Regions from separate parts of the Homo sapiens genome. Here region 2 is linked to region 1. Evidence: fine-mapped expression QTL. Tissue or cell type: tibial nerve. Region 1 holds a variant in brackets; the other region holds the start of a gene. All regions are shown on one strand. Distances are from middle to middle.

Region 1 (11,194 bases):
ATAAAATAGTATTCTCTTTGGCCCTAATTTGCATTACCCTGATTTCTAGGAACAGTGAGCATTCTTTCTTCTTCTCTTTTTTTATCCTTAACTGAATTTCTTTGTCTGTGGAAATACATGTTCTTGTCCATAATATTTAGGGTAAAGGTAAAGGTCCTCTAATAAAAAGTGATTTACAAAAAAGATTTTTTAAAGATAGCAGAGTATTCCACACACAGGTAACAGCCGCAAAGAGAGAGCCATTCCCAGCCAGCCATCAGGGACCAGGTCCTTCCACCTTGCTATTCTTCCATCACCTAAATCTCCTCTCCTCTGTGTGGTCAGAGCTGGTTACAGCACATGAAAGACGGAAAGTCCCCTGCAACACTGTCTTTTGAGCATGGAAGATGGCAGCTGCGCATATGACTTCCGGCCACATTTCATTCCTGAGAAACTAGTCACATAGTTCATCTGTGGCTGCAGAGACATCTGGGAGATGTGGGCCTCTCGCATTGCAGAAATGCCAAGAAAGGGAGAGCAACTAGCAGTGACTGGCACTGTATCTTCTCTAGTTAGTGTTATTTTTAATGGCTGAAATTCTTAATTTTAAAGTAGTTTAAGAGTATAGTATAATTTTTAAATTATCAGCATATTTTGTGTCTTATTTAAGAAAGTCTTCTCTACCCCCAGAGTATTCCAAATGGATATATATATATATATATATATATATATATATATGCAGAATCATGTGCTGCATAACCATGTTTCAGTTAACGTGGACCACATATATGATGGTAGTCCCATAAGATTATCATGGAGTTGAAAAATTCCTATCACCTAGTAACATCACTGCCTTTGCAATATTGCAGTGAAACACATTACCTTTTCTATGTTTAGAAACACATATACTTACCATTGTGTGACAGTTGCCTACAGTATTTAGTACAGTAACACGCTGAACAGGTTATAGCCTAAGAGTATAGGCTGTGCCATATCACCTAGGTGTGTAGTAGACGATACCATCTAGGTTTGTGTAAGTGCTCACAATGTTTGCATGATAATGAAATCACCTAATGACGCCTTTCTCAGAATGTGTCCCTGATGTTAATGACTACAGTTTATACATCCACATACATATATTTTAAGTCTTGCTTTTAAGATTTAAAATTTTACTCCATCTGTAATTGATTTCTATGTATGATACGAGGATGGAATCAACTTTCATTCTTTTCCGTATGGATCATCAATTGTACTACCACTCTGTATTGACTGCTTCGTCTTCACTTGAGAGCTCTACAAAGTCATCTTTATTTTATACAAGAAGTCATTGCTTTGCATGGAATCTATATGCACAAATTTCAGTTGCAATGATTTATTTAACACAAATCCCCAAACAGCATAGTTCAAATTTCAGCTACCATGCTGTAGTAACTGCAATTGCATAAGTACAAACTTTGCTGCCAGCTTTTTAGTCTACAAATCACTATGTGGATAACAGATGCACATTCTCATCAGCAACCAGTCACATCACTTCTTCCAATGTCTGTCTGTTGGTGCTGGGTCATGGTGCATTTCTTATCAGTATATGCCTAGACAGCAAAGTGTATAGTTGTGTTGCTTCCTTGTTTACCAATAATGAATCCATGTGACAGTTCATAACAATATATAATTGAAAGATGAAAGTGTATCAAAGAAATGAAAAGTGGCAATGCTGGAAGTGAAGTTCAAATCTAAAATAAATGGGGTTATAGACATAATTTACCACCATGAAAGTGTTGACACTGCCACCATTTGAGAGACTGTAGATTCGCAGCAAGAGGAAATTAATGAGGGGAATTGATGTCCATGGATGAGGAAGGTGGTGGTGACAAAAAGGACGAAGGTGTCGATAAAAACTTCACTTAAAGGAATTCTGAGATATTTTATGACATTGAAAACACAAAGAAAAAAATATTGTAAGCTGATCCAAATTTAGGAGTTTAATAATTTGCTAAGATGCAAAAGATGCTTCCTCTGTATTATAAATTATATGATGAGAAAAAGAAGGCAAACACCAAACAGAAAAAATAAAACATTTTAATTTTCAGTGTTACTAATGTTTTAAATTATAGTGCATTAAATATTAGTGTTGCTACTTTTTATTTTTTATAGCCATTTTAAATTCACAGTAAAGATTTTTTGATGTTTTGAAAAAATGTTTACAGATCATCAAGCAGTCATAATTTTTCCCTGTTGATTATTAAGATGGCTTGCATAGTTTCAGCTTGCAGTTCTTGTTATGGTTCCACACTAATGTGCAGAGCAGCGCTGCCTGTATCAAGTTTGTGTGAAGGGGAAAGGTTAATTCTGAATTCATTTTCTGTCCCATAGTCAATTTATCTATGCCAGCCCCAATTCCACATTGCCTTGATTGGTATAGATTTACAATAAATGTTGATAAGTGGTAGGGTGATTCCCCTCCCTTACTCAAGATCAGAAGTGCTTGTGATATTCTTGGGCCTTTATCATCCACATGAATTTTATTACCAGCTTCTGGATTTTCATGTAAAACACTTTGGTGAATTTGATTTAATTACATTGAGGTTTTGAATTAGTTTATGAGGAACTGACATCTTTATGATATCTTCCTACTTACCAATATGAGATAGTTCTACATTTATTTATGGCTTTTTTTGCTGTCATTTCCTACATTTAGATGATTTTTCTATAAATTATACTACATCTGATTTTAAATTTACTCCCAAATTCTTAAATTTTTATAGCAATTCAACATTGTAACTTTTATTAAATTATGCTTTTTAACCTTTTCTCTCTGGTTAATAGAAATACACTGGATTTTTATGTATTAATTATATTTCTAACAATTTTTCTCATCACTCTTAATTCTATATTCTGTGATTTCTTTGGGTTTTTAAGTTAAGTCATATCTTCTGTGAATAATGACAGTTCTGTCTCTTTTTTCTATACTTATCAGTTTTCCTTTTCCTTTCTTCTTTCCCTCCTCTCCTTCCTCCCTTCTTCCCTCCTTCTCTCTCTCCCTTCTTTCCTTACTTTCATTTTTTCTTTCTTTAATTGTATTGACAAGTACAGTAATCAATAACTTCTAAATTTTCACTATTAAGAATGATGATTGATTGTGACTTTCCATTACTATTTAAACTTATAAATCTTCTATGACTTAACATAACTGAAATGCATTTATGTGAATTTACTTCTCTCTTTATTCTTGGCTCATGTGTTTTTAAATAATTTTTTTTTAATTTTATAGAGAGTTTGGGTCCCTATCTTCTCTTGTCCTCTGCTTCTAGTACTCTGAGTAATTAGGTTGCTCACTCACATTTTCATTTCTCTACGGGCATAATTTGCATGTGCATATTTTTGTACCTTGACATGTGTACTTAAAAAGGAACATTTGGAGGACCTATGAATAAAATCACAATGCTGGTATTTTTAAGCTAAAGAGTTAAATAAATCTCCTTTGTCAACTGACACAGGTAATGGATGGTTTCTTGGGAGTATTGTTGTTAAGTCTGAAGATGAAGACAGCAGTGAAGAGGTGCTGTTTCTATGCAACAGGTATGCTCTTAATGCATTATTATGCAAAATTATGCTCTCTTTGTCCAATTTATTCCACCTGTGTCCTCCAGCATGCCTCATCCCAGCTGTTGGACAACATCATTCCCTCCCTGAAAACCAGAGCTGAAGGCCTTCTCTCCTCAAGAAGCTGTCCTTTATCAGCACTAGTAATTCTCTCTTCTTTTGTAATCTCTAACATTTTTCTCTTCTGAAAAAAGTATGGTGAAATGGAAAGAAATTGGATTAGGACTTAGAAAACAGGTTCTTCTTTCTGTTTCTAAAACACATGCTAAGCTCCCTGCTAGTACTGTGAACTTGGGTACCACTCTTAACTTCTCTGAGGTTCAATGTCCTCATATGGAAGATGGCAATAATACCTGCTTCCCCTAGTTCATTTGAATCATTTAAACTCAAATGATGTTATATATGTGAACTGTGAACTCTAATGCATTGTACTAAAGTGGCGTAGATGTAATATAACAGGAGACTTAAGTGGCAAGGGTAACTGTAATTCCTTGGCCGGGTGGTCATAGGTGAATCTCTTAAACTTCTGATTCTCAGTTTCAAAGTTTTATGAGAATGATTAAATCTTCTCTACCTACTTTATAGAGTTATAATAAGTAGAATATCAAATGCACCTTAAAACAAAATGCACTAAACATAGAAATTATGTAGTTAAGTTCCCTCCATTATTAACCAATCTACAGAATATGTTGATCCATTTGATCAGTCATTATGCAAGTAGTAATTGACCACCCACCATATCAAGAAGTGGGATAGATAATGGAGATCCATCAATAAGGCAATCCAGTTTCTGTCGGCAAGGACCTATGGTCCCCACATGGGAACATGGGAAATGTTAACGACATGAGGGCAATGAGAGAGGCTTATATATGCTGTGAAGACCTGGGTGTCAAGGTGCTATGTCTATGTGATTGCATGTTCCTTGAATCTAGAGAACTCATGCATTGTATATATTAATTTATCCATCCATTTAATATGTTAATTTATCCATCCATTTATTTATGAAAAAATATTGCCTGCCTGCTAGGTGTTAGGTACTATACCAAATCCTAGAGATTTAGAGATAAAAAAGTAGAGT[T/A]CTTGTCTTCAAAGAACTTCCAATTGATGCTCAATAAGGGAGGAGAGATGTAACGCTACATGAAGCTGGAGAGCTGAGTGTGCTCTGAATTTAGTAGGTGGCTCAGCATCACTATTCCCTAAAGTGAGGGACACTCTTCAGATATGCAGAGATGCACATTGGTTGACTGACTGGATTTTACCTTACTATAGTTTCGATTCTAGGAAATAGTCATTCCTTTGAAACTTAATAAGGAGTTGAATTTTGTATGAACAAAATGTGTAGCACTTCTCTGATCATCTGTTTGTTTCTTTTCTCAATGCACTTCCATTTAAAGTGCATGTAGTAGTAGCTATTGCCATTTTATGAAATTCAAGCTCTAGGAAGAGACCTTGTATTTTTATTTTTGAAAGAAATCTTAGTGAATAGGGAATAGAAGGGGCAAAGATTGAAGTTTTTTAGCACCAGATTTGGATTATAATGGCATTACTTACTAGCTCTGGGAGCCTCAGTTTATTCTTATGTAAAATGGCAGTAATGACACCTATTTTGCAGGGTTGTTTGAGGATTTCAGACAATGTATATAAAGTACCTACAAAAGTGTCCTGCAATTATTAGAGGCTCCATGATGGTAAATGTTATTGTCACAGAAACAATTTTAAAGAAATTTTTAGACATGATACTACACATGCAAATGAAGGGAGAAAACACACCTTTGTTTCTAGATCATGTGTCTAGTATTTAGAACTCTCAAATAATTGACTAAGTTTTACTTTTTAAATATTGTATCTGCACAGTCCAATATGGTAGCCACTAGTCACATATGGCTAATTAAATTTAAATTAATAAAATCAAATCAAATAAAAATTCAGTTGCTTGGTTGTACTAGCTACATTTCTAGTGCTGAATAGACACAGATGGTTAGTGACTACCATATTGGCCAGTATATATACAACATTTGGTTTTATATCACATCTAGATATTTGGTATCATATGAAGCTGTGTTTAATATTTTACAGTGTAGTTTATTGCTCTGAATGTGATGGTACCAATGAAATAATGTAAGTAGTAAATATAAGATTATTATTTTTCTAGAAGTGCCACATTTAGCAAAGTCAAAAGGCATCCAGGGCAGGTGATAATGGTCACATTCTCTTCCAAGCCAAAATTAATTTTACTGGCAATGCAGAGGAGTAGAAATCATGAAAGTGACTTATTTCTACATTTTAGAATAATCACAAACCCTAGAAATTGGACTTACAGAAACAAAATGACGCAGATGAAAATATTTAAGATGGTTTATTGTATCATACTATCATATGGAATGATATGCACACTGGTGTATCATTGCACTGTTATCATTAACTATAGCAATATAAACTGTTTTCCTTGCCTTTTCTCTCTGAGGACCCAGGGTTAAATAAGTATTAAAAAATTATCTTGCTATTCCATCAGAAGTGGAAGAAACCATAGATAACATTTAGTTTCATGGTTTGTTTGACAGATGGGCAAACTGTGACCTAATGAGATTAATGGCATGCACACCTCAGACCCATTAGTCAGAAAGCAGGGGCTCTTGGTTCCTTGGCCCTCTGGAAAGTTTTAATTTAGTGTCTATCAATCTGTTGTTTCTATGATATAACTATGATTTTGTGAATTATCTTCTACTGAAGAATTCCCTGCACAAGATATCAAGTTTACTATAAAATTGTTTTGTCAGAAAGTTCTACTTTCTGGAGTGTTTGGAGCATTTAGATGACATAAGCTTTACTGTCTTCCGCAGTATAGATTATCAAGTACTTAAATGCAAGTCCCCTTCTAATTATGGGAAAAGAAAAGGTCTCCGAGAAGGAGGTTATTTATAACTTTATTTGTGGAGTTTCAAAATAACCAAGATATAGAGGGGTTACATTTTGTGTTGTGGGAGCCTCTAAGATTTCTGCACCCATCTGTTGTATTGCTGTAGAGAAAAATCAGAAGAATATCCATCACTAGCATTTACTGAATGCTTTCCAAGGAATAGGCTTCATGGTAAAGCCAGAACTGCACACAGATACTCATTTGATCCCCACAGCCAGCCTACAGGTAGACTCTGTGATATTTATATTTCAAAGACAAGGAAATTGTCTTTGAAATATAAAGATAGTAAATTTTTTGCCTGAATATATTAATAATTGGTGGAGTCAGGATTCAGATCAAAATATATTTGACTCTAGAACTGTACTGTCTCACATGGGAGCCACAAGCCACATATGTCTACTGAACTGTGGCTCTTCCAATGTAGGTATAAGATACATTCCAGATTTCAAGAGTGGAGAATAAAAAAGAATGTGATACAATTTTTATACTGATTACATGTTGAAATAATAATCTTTTGAATTTATGAAAATTCAAAATATTAATTTTACCTTCTTTTTACTTCTTTCCATATATGGTTTGTATTCTAGTTCTCTTGAAGAGTGCTGTCCTAGAGTCTGAGGGTTTAGCCACTGTGTATACCTGCCAGTCACATGACAGGAGAAAATAACAGCTACCACTAAGGAAACTCCAAGTGAGAAATTTTGACTATGTTAGAATATTTGTAATGTTACCAGAGGACTTTTCTAAAAGCCAAAATTTTAGAGTGAACCAATATGACTTTGCAATTTGAGTGTAGGAAAAAACTTGCCGAAGCTGGACTGCTAAATAATCTGGTGTGGCTTAAAATCTTAAATCCTTTTTTAAAATTCTGATCTCTCTAAAGGCCTCTTTAAATTCTTTCCATATGTTTTTTTTTCCTTTCTAACTAATGAGCCTCCTTTCAATGCTCTCTCATATTAATTATCTTCTTTTTTTTGCATGGCAGATGGCTAGATGAGTACCAAGATGATGGCAAGACCCAGCGGGAATTGCTCGCAGAAAGTAGTCCCAGTGCAGTAGGAGAGACTGGGTCTACCATCTCCTGAAAGGGCCCACTTGGGCCTGTCGCTCCAATATGCTTCAAAAGGCTATTGATCTGATTGTGATAGTGCATTTGTCTTTTGCTTGGGCTGGAGCAAACACCTGGGGAGGGTCAGTTTGTGTTGGACCCACTCATTGTTTCTGAGAACTTCCAAAATTGGGAGGATGCACTGACAGCCTCCGCCAACAGCTGACCAAGATCAGCCCCTGGTATCTGGGGTACCCATACTGCTGCTGCTCACCTCCTCCCCCTCCTCTTCCTTCACCTTTTCTTTCCCTTCCTCCCCACTCTTCCCCTCCCTCCTCTCCCTTCTTTCTTTTCCTTTTTCTTTCAGAAAATCTGACTTACTGCTAAGGTTACTGAAATGTCTAAATAAGTATTCTTTGTAGAAAATAACTGAAGAGGTACCTAATAACATTTGATGCATGAAAAACACTTTTATGCAACCTATGTTAATTTTAAAGTGGAAGTTTTATTGTTAGACAATGGTATGTCTCTCTCAGAATTAGTGGTAAAATCAATAAGAAAATGTAGAAAGAACCCAACCAATTGGGTTACTGTGTGTTCCCAGTGCACGTCCTGTGGGTCCACTTGCAGTTTGAGCTTCGAGCTGGTGACAGAGTCCTGCAGGCAGAGAGCAGCAGAGCGCAGGGCAGATATCTCACATCCATCGGTCACTTTTTCTCATGAAGCCTCAAATACTTGTCAACTTGGTGCCACAGGTGCCTTCTTCTAATCCGTTAATTTGGCACATAAGCTAAAACTCATTTGCCAGCCCCGGAGAGGTCAGGATGTAGCTTTTGATATCAAAGACACCTGTCTTTGAATCTCTATTTTGCCCCGTGAGGTAGATGCTATCATCACCCACATTTTGCAGATGAGGAAACCGACACATGGAAAAGCCAAGTGACCTGCCCAAGCTTAGAGAGTGGAACAAGCAGGAGAGCCGGGATGTGACCCTAGAAGTCTGACTTCAGAGCCCGTGCGCGTCCACACTGTGACCTTGGCCCTCCTGCCTTCCCTGCTTGTTTTTAGTATCCCATGAAATCAGGCAGAGGGGCCAAGGAGGCAAATCTTGCATACCACCTTCATGATTTTTGTCGTCTGCAATAGTACCTGTACTAGTATATGCTTGATATTTTCTTCCTTGAACTGTGTCTAAATCAGTGTATTTAGAGGTGAAGAGAGCTTGGCCTCATCCTAAATCATATTCCAAATATCCATGAAATCACTGATTTAATATGTCATTACATTTTTTCCTAAAACACATTAAAATAAATCTATGTCTAACAAAAATTTTAGGTTAGTCTATATACTACCTAAAATTATTTTATAAATATCTAGTAGTCGGCACATTTCACCATTACGGTGTGTGTGTATATGTGTGTGTGTGTGTGTGCATGTGTGTATGTGTGTGTAGAACTTAACTCTGGCCTGGCAGATCATTATTAGTAAATAATGTTCAGTAAGTAGATGCTGTTGTTATAATGGTTTCCCTTTTACTAACCCATGACCAAGAACTAATCCATTCCTTAGAAATGGTATATTTTTACATCTGAGGATGAAAATACATCAAGAATACGGCTTCAGTGATTTGAAGTTAAAAACAGCCTTTTTTTTTTCTAAAGTGTCCAGCAGACCATATTACAGGTAAGAAAAATAAGTACAATAGTTCTCCCTTATTGGTGGTTTTGCTTTCTGAGGTTTCAGTTACCAGAAGTCAACCACAGTCTGAAAATATTAAATGGAAAATGTCAGAAATAAACAATTCATTCATTTTCAGTTGCATGCCATTCTAATCAGTGTGATGTAATCTCATGCCATCCTGCCCTGTCCCATCCAGGATGTGAATATTCTCTTTGTCCCGAGTATCCATGAATCACTTAGTCCTAGTATTGCAGCACTTGTGTTTGTCACCCTTATTTTACCTAATAATGACCCCAAAGTGCAAGAGTAGTGACTCTAGCAATTCGGATATGCCAAAGAGAAGCTGAAAAGTGCTTCCTTTAAGTGAAAAGGTGAAAGTCCTTGTCTTAATAAGGAAAGAAAATAAGTTGAATGCTAAGTTTGCTAAGACTTATAGTAAGAACAAATATCTGTTAAATTGTAAAGACAGAAAAAGAAATTTGTGCATAATATAAATAGGGTACAATACTATCCATGGTTTCAGATATCCACCAGGGGTTTTGGAACATATCCCCCAAGGATAAGGGGGACCACTCCAGGCTGCACAGAAGCTTGGAGAATCACTTCTTGCCCTTGATGACATTTATTTCATGGTGCCCTGCCCAAAGCGGATACTGAACAAACACACTCATTTACTAAGCAGAAGCTTGTGAAGCATCTCCCAGACACTGGGAATAAACTGGCAAACAGCATAGTCATTTTCCCTGCCCTCTGAGGGGCCAGTGTTCTAGCAGGGACCTGAGTGAATAATGTGCGTTCTGCAAACAGAGCCGAGGCGCCCTCCAAACTCTCAGGCCCTGCGGAGGGAGAGAGATCTTGTGCTCAGCTTTGTATATTCAGTTCTTGGCATACCAGGTGCTCTCTGCTAACTTGCAGGCCCTATGGAAGGAGAGAGATCTTGTGCTCAGCTTTGTATATTCAGTCCTTGGCATACTGCCTGCTTATAGTCAGTGCTCTGTGTCTATTAAATACATGAATCATTCTTGCCTTACCACACAATACACCTTATTAGAGATTGAAATATTAAATGATTCCCAATTCAGTTTATATTTGTGCAGAATAAGTATTCACAGATAATTACACTCAGTGCCTCTATTTTTACAAACTTTGATGCAACAATACAGTTTTATTCCAAACGTAATCCTGCCCCTTTCTCCCCACCCTGCCACAGTTCAGATTGGAGTTGTCTATTTCCTAATTCTATCCAACAGAACATTTACAATTCTTCTCTTGAGGGGGGAGGTGATGTAAATACCAATTGGATCCATTTTATGTGGATTCTTGTTTATTTTATCCTTATAGTGCTCATTTCTTAGACATTGTCCACATTCTGGGACTGTCTCAGTCCAAACTCCTTACATAATAGCTATTCCTTGAAAACTGGAAAACTAACAGTGAAGCTATATTTATTTCTAGGTTTTCAGAGACAGCAAAAAATTATTGACAGTGCATAGCACAAAGGCAGCAAATAGATTCTTAAAGGTTGGGTGAAAAGAGGCATTTTGGTCATGTCGTTTGTTTTTTCTTGTGGAGTGAATGATGTAAAACCCTCATCCATAAACCTGACATGCATATCCTTTAAAAATGCTGGTGAGTGGTAGACAAGTGCAAAAACAAAGACCAGAAAACAAAATGTGGCCCATTTCATGGAGCACGACAATTGCCTAGCACAACTCCTGTGTCTTCATGGGTTTGCTTGTATCTGGGTTAAAAGCAAGATGGAGCAAAGAACACTTTTATCTGATGGATGCATCCTCTATTTTAACCAGCAAGTTATCATGATGGTGCAATGATGATATGGATGGCCTTCAGGTGCTAAAGTGTTTTCATATAAACTTCGCAAGCAGATTTAAGTTATGTGTTTGTTATAGCAAAGGATGATGTAGCTTCTTTGTGGCTGTGGGTAAAATAATGTCTTGGACAGCTAAGCT
Region 2 (10,373 bases), 230 kb after region 1:
TTTCCAAGTAGCCATAAGTCTTGTTTCATTTTCTTTACACCTTCACTTCATATCCTCCTTTGGCTATCCTTATTGTGAGTGGGGTACTCTCCTCCCTTCATTCAGATACCTAATTCCTACCTCTAGGCCACCTTCAAGGCGGTCTTGCTCTGTTACCTGCCTACCTAGGGCCTTATAATTCTGATTTCCAATCCAAGATTCCACCTCACTTTGTGGTGACAAACATGGGGAAACAGGATAACTTCTCCATTCTGCAGAGAGCCTACACACTTCCCACTGAACTCTGAACTTATCCTAGTAGACGCCAACACAGAAGCCACACCAGAATATGCATTACTGCTAACATCTGACTGGGCCTCACTATGTTGCCTAGGCTAGTCTTAAACTCCTGGCCTCAGGCAATCCTCTTGCCTTGACCTCCCAAAGTTCTAGGATCATAGGTGTGAGCCACCACACCTGGCTTCAAAAATGTAATTTGAAGTATTTTCTGGCAGATGAGACAAGGGGTCTAAGAAAAAGATATAGTCAAGGATGACGACCCTATTTTGGCTTGAGAAACTTAAAGAACAAAATTGTCATTAAAGGAAATGAGGAAGAAGCAGCAGATTTTGAAGGGGGAAGATCTGGAGTTCAGTTTTGGATGTTTTAAATTTGAGATGCCTAGAGGCATCCAAGTAGAGATGTTGAGAAAGCAGTTGGGTGTATTCTGGGATCCAGGGGGTTTCCAGCCTGGGGAAATAAATACAGGAGTCACCAGCATATAGGTGTAATTTTAAACATGACATTTTATGAAAGTATCAAGAGAGTGAGAATAGGTAGTGATATGGTTTGGCTGTGTCCCCACCCAAATCTCATCTTGAATTGTAGTTCCCATAATCCCCATGTGTCATTGGAGGGACCTGGTGGGAGGTAACTGAATCACAGGGGCAGTTACCTCCATGCTGTTTTTGTGATAGTGAGTGAGTTCCCATGAGATCTGATGGTTTTAAAAAAGGCTTTTCCCCTGCTTAACTCAGCACTTCTCCTTGCTGTCGCCATGTGAAGAAGGACATGTTTGCTTCTCCTTCTGTCATGATTGTAAGTTTTCTGAGGCCCCCCTAGCCCTGCAGAACTGTGAGTCAATTAAACCTCTTTCCTTTATAAGTTACCCAGTCTCAGGTATGTCCTTATAGCAGTGTGAGAATGGACTAATACACGTAGAGAAAGATATGAAGACTGAACCAGCTTAAAGGTAGGAGAAATGAGAAGAAATTAGCAAGGGACCCAGAATTAGCAAAGAAGTAGACTTCAAAACGGGAAAACCCCAGAGTGTGTGATATAGTGAAAGCCAAGGGAAGAGCAGATTTCACTGAGAAGAGAAGGTTCTACCATGTCAAATGCCACTAGGGGGTCAAGGAAGGTGAGACTGAAATGTTCAGTAAGGTGGCAATAGGCTGCCAGCGACTTGGTAAGAACAGTTCCAGTGGAGCAATTGTTGGTTTATTTGAATGTGTTCAAGAGAGGATCGAAGAACAGGAATTGAAGAAAGCAAGTTTAGGCAACTTTAGAGAGCTTTGTTGCAAAAGGTTTCAGGGAAGTGCAGTGGTGACTAGAAAGGGAATTGGAATCAAAAGTTTTGTTTTGCTTTGTTTTTTAACTAGTGGATACATAGGAGTGTGTTTGTACACTGATGTACAGGAGAGAGGGAACATTGATAATTGAAGCAATGAGTGTGGAATTGAGCTCTTGAGCAGTAAGAGGGGTGGGGGCTGGTGAACAGCAAGGGAGTTGGCCTTGTAGAGCAGGAGGCTGAGTGGTACACGTGCTGGCAGGTGGGCAGAGAAGGTGCTGAACGCTTGTGTGGGTTCTGCTCTGGTCGCTTCATCTTTCTCAGTGAAATAGGAAGCAGAGTCATCAGGGGAGAGTAAGAATGGGGAAGGAGGTGTTTAAAGCTTGAGAAAGGAAAATATAAAAAGACATAATTTAAAAGAGCAGGAATGCAAATGGACTGGGAAGATGAGGTGTGACTGTGGAGCAGCCTTTGGGTCCACTTCAGGGTAAAGGTCCAGGATAGAAAGAAGTGCAGTGTGCAGGGCCACGCCCCTTCTCCAGCTACAGCCAGTTACACAGGGTCAGGCCTGATGTAGGTGGAGAACAGAGTTTAACCAGGGCTGGTGTTTTGTCGAGTAAGAGGGACAACAGAGATGAGGAAGTGTGTGAGAGGTGCCTATCATGATTGAGCATGGAATTTACATCGTGTAAGAAGAAAGGGGGGGCATGAAGGGGTTAAGGGACATGAAAAGGAGGTAGAAAACAGGTCCAGGGGTACAGGAGAGAGTGAGCTCATGAGTTAGGAGGGGTTAATCAGAGTGTGAGGTATGTAAAGTGGAGATTATGAAGCTGTTGAGTAATGCTAAGGTTTAGGTTATACCAGCTGTCTCCAACCCTTTTGGAAGTAGGGACCGGTTTTGTGGAAGACAATTTTTCCACTGGGGTTGTTGGGGGGATGGTTTTGGGATGAAACTGTTCCACCTCAGATCATCAGGCATTTGTTAGATTCGCACAAGGAGGACACAACCTAGATCCCTTCAATGTGCAGTTCACAATAGGGGTCGCACTCCCATGAGAATCTAACGCCTCCACGGATCTGACAGGCGGCGGAGCTCAGGTGGTAATTTCACCCTGCCTGCCACAGCTCACCTCCTGCTGTGTGGCCCAGTTCCTAACAGGCCACTGACCTATACCAGTTTATGGCCCAGGAATTGGGGACCCCTGGGTTATACAATGAGAATAAATCTCTCAGATTGGATGGAAGACAAAATCATTGATGGAGAGATCACATTTCTGATAGGCCAGGAATCTGTAAGAAACAACAACTGATTGTGATGCAGGTAGTCCAAGGACTGTGTTTTGAGGAACTCTAGTTTTAAGTAGAGATGGAGAGCCAAACACAAAAGTTTAGAAGCCAGAAGACATGAGGGGGCTGGAAGAAACAGGAAAGATATTAACAGAATGTTGTGTGTGGAGTGTGCTGGACACAGCGTTAAACAGTTCACATGCCTCCTTGTTATTAGTATTAGTATTTGTTTCTGGCAACAAGACCAAATTCTAGAGATCATTATTGTCTCTATTTAACAAACGATGAGCATGAGGGACAGGCAAGTTAAATAACATGCACAAAGATAAGTCCAAACTCTGAACTTGCAACCATTATGTCCACCTGCCTTGACAGGTGCAATGATTATGATAGAGCAGTTAATATTAAAATCTATATCCTAAAATGTGATTACTAGACTTATGAGATTAGAGACTCTTGAGAACAGTATTGTATACAAAGCCCTGTAATATACATGATCTCATCTAATCCTCATATTAATCCTGTGTATTAATTTGCTAGGGTCATGGGGCCAGTAATTAGCAAAGCCTGGATGTGAAGCTCATCCTCTGACCTCCTGCTTGTAAACTCCTGCCACTAACTACCCGTCACCATTACTTTCCAGATATGGTTCAGACAGCAACCTTAAAGAGACTTTTGAATAAATGTATTGATAAAGAAACCGTTACTAGTTATTTCTTTTTAGAACCTAACATAAAAAGTTTCATAATTCCTGTGTTTCCATGGGAACATTCGTTAGCACAGAATGCAGCATTCTTCCTGTCATGGAATGTTCTTTCTATAAATTCATGCATTCACTCAACTAATATTTATTGAGCAAATAGTCTGTGCATGTGCTGTGCCAGGTGCAGAGGATACAGTCGAATAAGAAACATCCTGTTTTAGGGGAACCTTTAGTCAGCCCCAGGTCTTCAGCACCTCAGATACTCTGCAGGGCCTTTTCATGCCTGGTGTAATTTAAGACACTGCATTTGACCTAGAATACACTCCATCCCTTAGGACCCAGTTACCTAAGAGATCATTTCTCTCCCTAGTGGTTTGGCAGAGAGTAAGATCAGCAGTAGCACCCTGGAGATGGAATCTTAGATTTGGACTCCGGAGAAATAGAATCAGGGTGTTTTCCAAAAAAGGATTCTTCTACTCCAAGAAGACCCAATTTTAAAGCTGGATTTAAAAATATACCCGCTTGCCTGGCATACTAAGCATCTTAGTGGGACTGTGTTGCCCCTCAGCCATCACTTGGCTATTCCTTTCGCTAGAAATACCGGATTTGTACATGCCATGTAATCGTGTAGAGACTCTATGACTCAACACCCTCCTGCCAAAATGTCAGGTCAAGGCCAACCAAGGGAGGGTCCTGGGCACCAGTCTGTGAGAATAAAAGGCAATGAATCCAGAGCGTGGGGCAAATTCCACTTTATCCAGGTTGGTGATGACACAGCCCTTGATACGTAGCACACAATGCGTGAGGCGGCTCTTTCCACGTGCAGAGAAATCCGTGCACTTCTATTTCATAATGTTACTCATTAAGAATGGCACTGTGTACTAGTTCGAACTCACCTGGCGCCTACCAGAGAGAAGCGGGGGTGGGTGGGGGGTGTCATGGTTTGCCTCCTGATTTAGAAGATCCAACTGGTGCTCCTAGTGGCAGTGTAACTCGTGTTGCCTCACTTACCTCCCAAGTATGTGAGTCACAGTATAATTTAAGAATTACACTCTCTATTTCTTACATTTGCAAAAGCTAAGTGAGACAAATCAAAGCTTAAGTTTCCTTATTAAAAAAATGAAGATCCTATATTTTATTGAGGTTTTAAAAATCTCTTAAAACCACAACATATTTTGTATTCTCCTTGAATCACTCCGATCACAGATTTAATTTTTCGAGTCATTTCTGGAGTTGTGGGACCACACAGCTAGTTTGCAATCCCTATAGCTTTAAGAGAAGGTATTTCTAGTTTTGGAGTAAGGAGTAAGGGAGGTGGCGCCTGCTCCGGGCTCCGCCACTCCCCGCCCGCGGGCCGGGGGTGGGGTGGCACTCGGTTTCCCGCGGCTGCCGGCCGCGCCCCGCGCCGCCGCCAGGGGTGCTGCGCTTCCCACCTGCCGCAGGACGCCTCGAGGGCCGGTGCGGTGCCCACTGGGCTGCCGCTCCTCCCGGCTCAGAGCTTTCCAGCCGCCGAGAACGTGCGAGGGACCCCGGCGTCGGGCAGGGGCCTGGGCCGCGAAGGGCGGGAGCGCCTCCGCACCTGCCTGAGCTCAGGCACCCCCGCCCGCCGGAGAAGCCGGGAGCCCTCGGAATGCCGGCTGCCTCCACCGAGGGCGCTGGCTCGGGGCTCCCAGCGGACCCGCCCGCCCTCAGCTGCCGGCGCGGCACCAGGCTCCGCGCTCCGAGCCCCGTACGCCTTTCTCTCCCCTGCACTCTCTGGCAAGGCCGGGCACGCCCACTGCCGCTGCTGGCCTCCGAGCCCGGGCGCCCGAGTTACACCCATTCTCCCCACCATCGTCGGCCAGAGCCGCGCTCCCAGCCCTTCTCCAGGTGCTGGCGGCTCCGACCGGAATACAAAGAGGCCTGCTCCTCCCTGGCCCTTGCTGCCGCCACACCCGTCCGTGCCCACTCTCCGCCGTCCTCCGCGAGGGCTGCACGCAGGGACCCCTCCTCTCAGCGCGCTCCTCCCCCTCCCCCAGTGTCGCTCAAATCCACCCAGCGTTCCGAAATCCCGGGAGTGGGGGCCTTCGACTGTCACCCTCAGGCCCCCTTGGCCGCTCCTCCCGGCCCTTGGGACCCGCCAGGGCAGTCCCCCAACCCCCGCCCGCCGCTCCTCTCGGTCCCGGCCCCTCCTCCGGGTCCCTCCTCCTCCCTCGCCCCTCCCGAGCCAGGGTGGGAGCGACGGCAGCTGGAAGAGAAGGGATGAGGTCATCCTCTCCCTCGGAGTCAGCTGGTGGAGGAGAGGAAGCGGGAGGAGGGAGCGCGCGCGAGGGGAGGAGAGGAATGTGCAGGTCCGAGGAGCGCCGCGGCGGCCGCTGCTGCTCCTGCTGCTGGCGGCGGCGGCGGCTCGGGCGGCAGCAGCGAAGCCGGGACGGCGAGGAGCGCGGGCGGCGGGCAGGGGCGCGCGCGGGGCGCCGCGAGCAGCTTGGCTCCGCGCAGGCAGCCAGGCGGCGCTCCTGCCGGCCCCAGGCGCGCCGCTAGCCCGGCCCAGCGCCCAGCCCGGCGGGCGGCGGGCGGCGGCGGACGGCAGGCGAGCCGACGCAGGAGCAGGAGGAGGGGGAGCCGCACCGCCTGGGAGGGAAGCCGGGGCGAGGCGAGGAGGTGGCGGGAGGAGGAGACAGCGGGGAAAGGTGTCAGATAAAGGAGGGCTCTCCTCCGGTGTGGAGGCATCATGGCCGCTAAATCAGACGGGAGGCTGAAAATGAAGAAAAGCAGCGACGTGGCGTTCACCCCGCTGCAGAACTCGGACCACTCGGGCTCGGTGCAGGGATTGGCTCCAGGCTTGCCGTCGGGGTCGGGAGCCGAGGACGAGGAGGCGGCCGGGGGCGGCTGCTGCCCGGACGGCGGCGGCTGCTCGCGCTGCTGCTGCTGCTGCGCCGGGAGTGGCGGCTCCGCGGGCTCGGGCGGCTCCGGCGGCGTCGCCGGCCCGGGCGGCGGCGGGGCGGGCTCGGCTGCGCTGTGCCTGCGCCTGGGCAGGGAGCAGCGGCGCTACTCACTGTGGGACTGCCTCTGGATCCTGGCCGCCGTGGCCGTGTACTTCGCGGACGTGGGCACAGACGTCTGGCTCGCCGTGGACTACTACCTGCGCGGCCAGCGCTGGTGGTTCGGGCTCACGCTCTTCTTCGTGGTGCTCGGCTCTCTGTCGGTGCAAGTGTTCAGCTTCCGCTGGTTTGTGCACGATTTCAGCACCGAGGACAGCGCCACGGCCGCTGCTGCCTCCAGCTGCCCGCAGCCTGGAGCCGATTGCAAGACGGTGGTCGGCGGTGGGTCTGCAGCCGGGGAAGGCGAGGCTCGTCCTTCCACGCCGCAAAGGCAAGCATCTAACGCCAGCAAGAGCAACATCGCCGCGGCCAACAGCGGCAGCAACAGCAGCGGGGCTACCCGGGCCAGTGGCAAGCACAGGTCTGCGTCCTGCTCCTTCTGCATCTGGCTCCTGCAGTCACTCATCCACATCTTGCAGCTCGGGCAAATCTGGAGGTACTGTAATGGGTGGGGGAAAAGGGAGGCTTGCTGCTGCTACTACATCCCCACTGCTTTGCTTTTGCACGGAAATCTTTCAGGGTTGCTTTGGTAGTAACCCTAGTCACACTCTTCCAGTTTTTTGGGTTTCTTTTGAACTGGGGCTTGCATTTTTAAAATTTGCAATCTCAGTCTAGGGTGGGAGGGAAGTGAGAAGCAAGGGAAGGACAGCAAAGTGGTTTCGATCACCTCATCCCTTCTGTCTTCCCACTCTGCCTTACTGGCTTCTTGCTCTTGGCATGCCACAACCCCCCTCCCCGCTTCCCCATTTTTAGTGATATTGTTTCAGTGAGTAGGAGAGGATTCCTGTCACATCTTCTAAAATTCCTTTATTATTATATTGAATTTGAGGTGTGTGTTGCCATTTGGATGGTTTCTTTTGTTCCCTGGGGAAAAAAAATTGCTAATTCTAGTGAAATGGGAGTTGCTGCTGCTCAAAAGTACCCACATATTAATGATCACTGCTGGAGAAGTGCTTTACTCAAAGTAAAGATCCTAATAGGCAAATGACTTTGTATATATATATATATATATATATATATATATATATATATATATCCCCGAGCATGATTCAGTAAGCTTTATGGGGCCCAGATTTACTTTTAGAGTGCCCTTTCTGATTATCTTGCAATATCTCCATATCTAATTTCTCATATAATTACAAGCCTTTGGAAAAGGGGTGGGGCACCATGTTAACTTTAGTTGTACTTGGTATCTTCGTTGGCTACTTTGCTGCTTGTCATCTGATCTACCAAGTCTTTTTACACAGGGATCACTTCAGTTATAAACTGGAATACAAGGCTAAACTTGGGCAGAGGGAAACCACCACTTGAACAGTCACTGCATGGACTTAGGAGCAGAATGAAATAGTATGCTCAGGAATACATTCTTTTGACTTTTATATGCTACTAGCAGATTTCGAAGCAATATTTTACATCTATAAAAATTACTTATATGGAAGTCTATAGATTCTAACATGTCAGAGCTTTTTTGGTTTTAAAATAACTTAGTAAACAGGTGGTATAAGCGAAATGAGGACAATTCCTAGAAAGTACACCAATATGGGACTACACTCTGTGGTACTGGTGCTCTTTTTCAATTTTATTTGTGGCTATTTTTGTGATAAAAGATGTGAGTTCTTGACTATGCCGAAGTATCACCTGTGGAAACAAGTTAGAGGATTTGTGGACTAGAACCACAAACTTCTTTTTATTTATGATGAACAACCATATGTTCACCTGAGAAGAGCAAGTGTGGTGATTTCACAACCTTTCCTGGGACCAGAGCTTTGTAAAGCAGACTGAACATTGCCATAGATGGTGACCTTCCAGATTGTGAAACATTTTTTTTCAAGCACACACTTTCTGAAAAAGTGATATTTGATATGTAGTCAGACAAATTGATGTTGGAACCTTCATACATATTTTGGACTCAAAGTAACTTTTTGAAATTCTAGTTAAATATGATAGCTATATTTCCCATGGATGACTATTGGGAAGACTTATAGCTTGATGCTCTTCAAGTATGATGAAGGACTTAAGTGCTTAATTTACTTACTGAAATTACTGACTGGCTAGGATGCATCTGATTAGCATTTCTAATCTGATAATTTGGTAAATTAAGCTTAACATTCCATTTGTTAACTTTTTCAAACTTTATCAAGATTTGGAAATCACTTAATTTTAACCACCTTTCAAGTTTCTAGACTTATGTAAATAATTCAAATACTTCTCTATCCTGTTAACTGAAAAACTGTAATTTTTTTTACAGATTGATTCTTTATGAAAAATCTGATATTAAATTCTGTGAACCGAGGAAGTCCTTTTAATTATAGTTGTGTTTACTATACCTTCTAAACCAAACATCTCCCCAATTGAAAAATGATTCTTAATTTTCTAGGGGAATAATATACAGAATGTGAGAAATAATTAGGAAAAGATATGAGCCTAAAAACATGTCAGAGAGACCATAGCCACTGGGCCAACTTATCATACAGAAAAGTTATTTCAGAGGTAGGGAGTGGGGGCGGGGAGAGAAGGGATGGAAGGGTAAGGTTTGAATGTAGAAAGAAAACCGCAGGCTGTCAGACAAATGTATTAACTGACCCAGACTTGGAGAAACTGTGGTCACACATGGCTCCTTTTAGTTAAGCATTTCTATAGTATTTTCCTTAGAGGCTTTAAAGTTAATACTGATAATGCATGATCATCTAGGAGGAATATTGTAGTTGGAAATATTATCAGATATAATATTCTGGAAATATTTGTCAACATTTTCAGAATAATGTGTGTAGTAGATAAGTTTGAATTATCATCTAATCTAACTATTCTCAGATTCTGATTAAAATATTTGGGGGATGCCAGAGTAATCTGGTGAAAGCGTGATCTAAGACTAATCAGCATCATTTTCTGTTTATGAAGTATATTTTTCAAAAAAACAAAACTTTAGCCTAATGTAGGAAGTTGGAAAGGGATAAGAAAGCTTATGGAACTTAACACTCAGATGCGCTCTAATATGTTTCTATTTCTCTGAGTGTTGAACATTCATGTGGAACTTTGGGGGAGTAGACGCATCTTTGCTAATAAGCCGACGAAGTGCAACTCATCTCAGATTTTTCTATTAGACTCACTATGATTCCTTAAATTAGAAGCATCCCTGTGCCTCTTCTAGCTTTTCTTTTCAATACATTATACACAAATATTGCAGAAACACCAGAGTACTGAGTGGTTCAAAGCACAGAGGTCATTATTCATGTTTTAACATGCTACTTTCTGGGATCAATAAAATAGATTTTAGCTAGGTTGGTAACTGCTTCTTGTGTTTCCATGAAATTCTAATTATTTTAGGGAAGGACCAGATTCTAAAAGCTTTCTCTAAATACAGTCTTTTGAAATAACATCAAAGCATTTGCTTGTTTAGAAATAGCCATTGAAACATTGTGGGTAAGATTTGCATGTATTTATACATATGTTACAATGCAACTGCTAAAAGCAATGATACATATTCATTTTAATTAAAGTTTACTAATGGGAAATTAATGGCAGCTTTTAAAGTCGCAGGAGGTGAGCTTGGGAAAGAGCTATTTGAAATAATAAAGTGAATTTTTGCTACCATGTGAAAAGAGCAATTATGACTTTAAAGGAACTGTGCCTGTGAATGAATGCGAAAGTACTTTCCTTTCTTATTTTTCTCATATGATTCCAGAAATTACTAAGAGTGCAGTTTAGCCAGTGGGAATCACAAATTCCCTAAGAGAACAGTTTTTAGTCCTCATGC

The links. PIP is the estimated chance that this variant, and not a neighbour inherited with it, causes the effect.
Region 2: it holds the start of XKR4, and the variant in region 1 is the best candidate, but not a certain one, in a credible set for the expression of XKR4 in tibial nerve (GTEx, PIP 0.80).

The regions. Positions count from the first base shown.
Region 1 is chr8:54,862,362-54,873,555 of GRCh38, forward strand. It overlaps a transcript of RP1 not described here. Among named protein-coding and RNA genes, the nearest start is that of XKR4, 230 kb to the right of the region's middle. The variant T/A (reference allele first, on the strand shown) is at 4,658.
Region 2 is chr8:55,096,240-55,106,612 of GRCh38, forward strand. It overlaps XKR4 (XK related 4), which reads left to right and starts at 5,789. Exons shown (of 3, transcript NM_052898.2): 1 at 5,789-7,055. The coding sequence starts at 6,250. RefSeq lists a silencer at 4,863-5,032 and enhancers at 5,444-6,111, 6,780-7,445.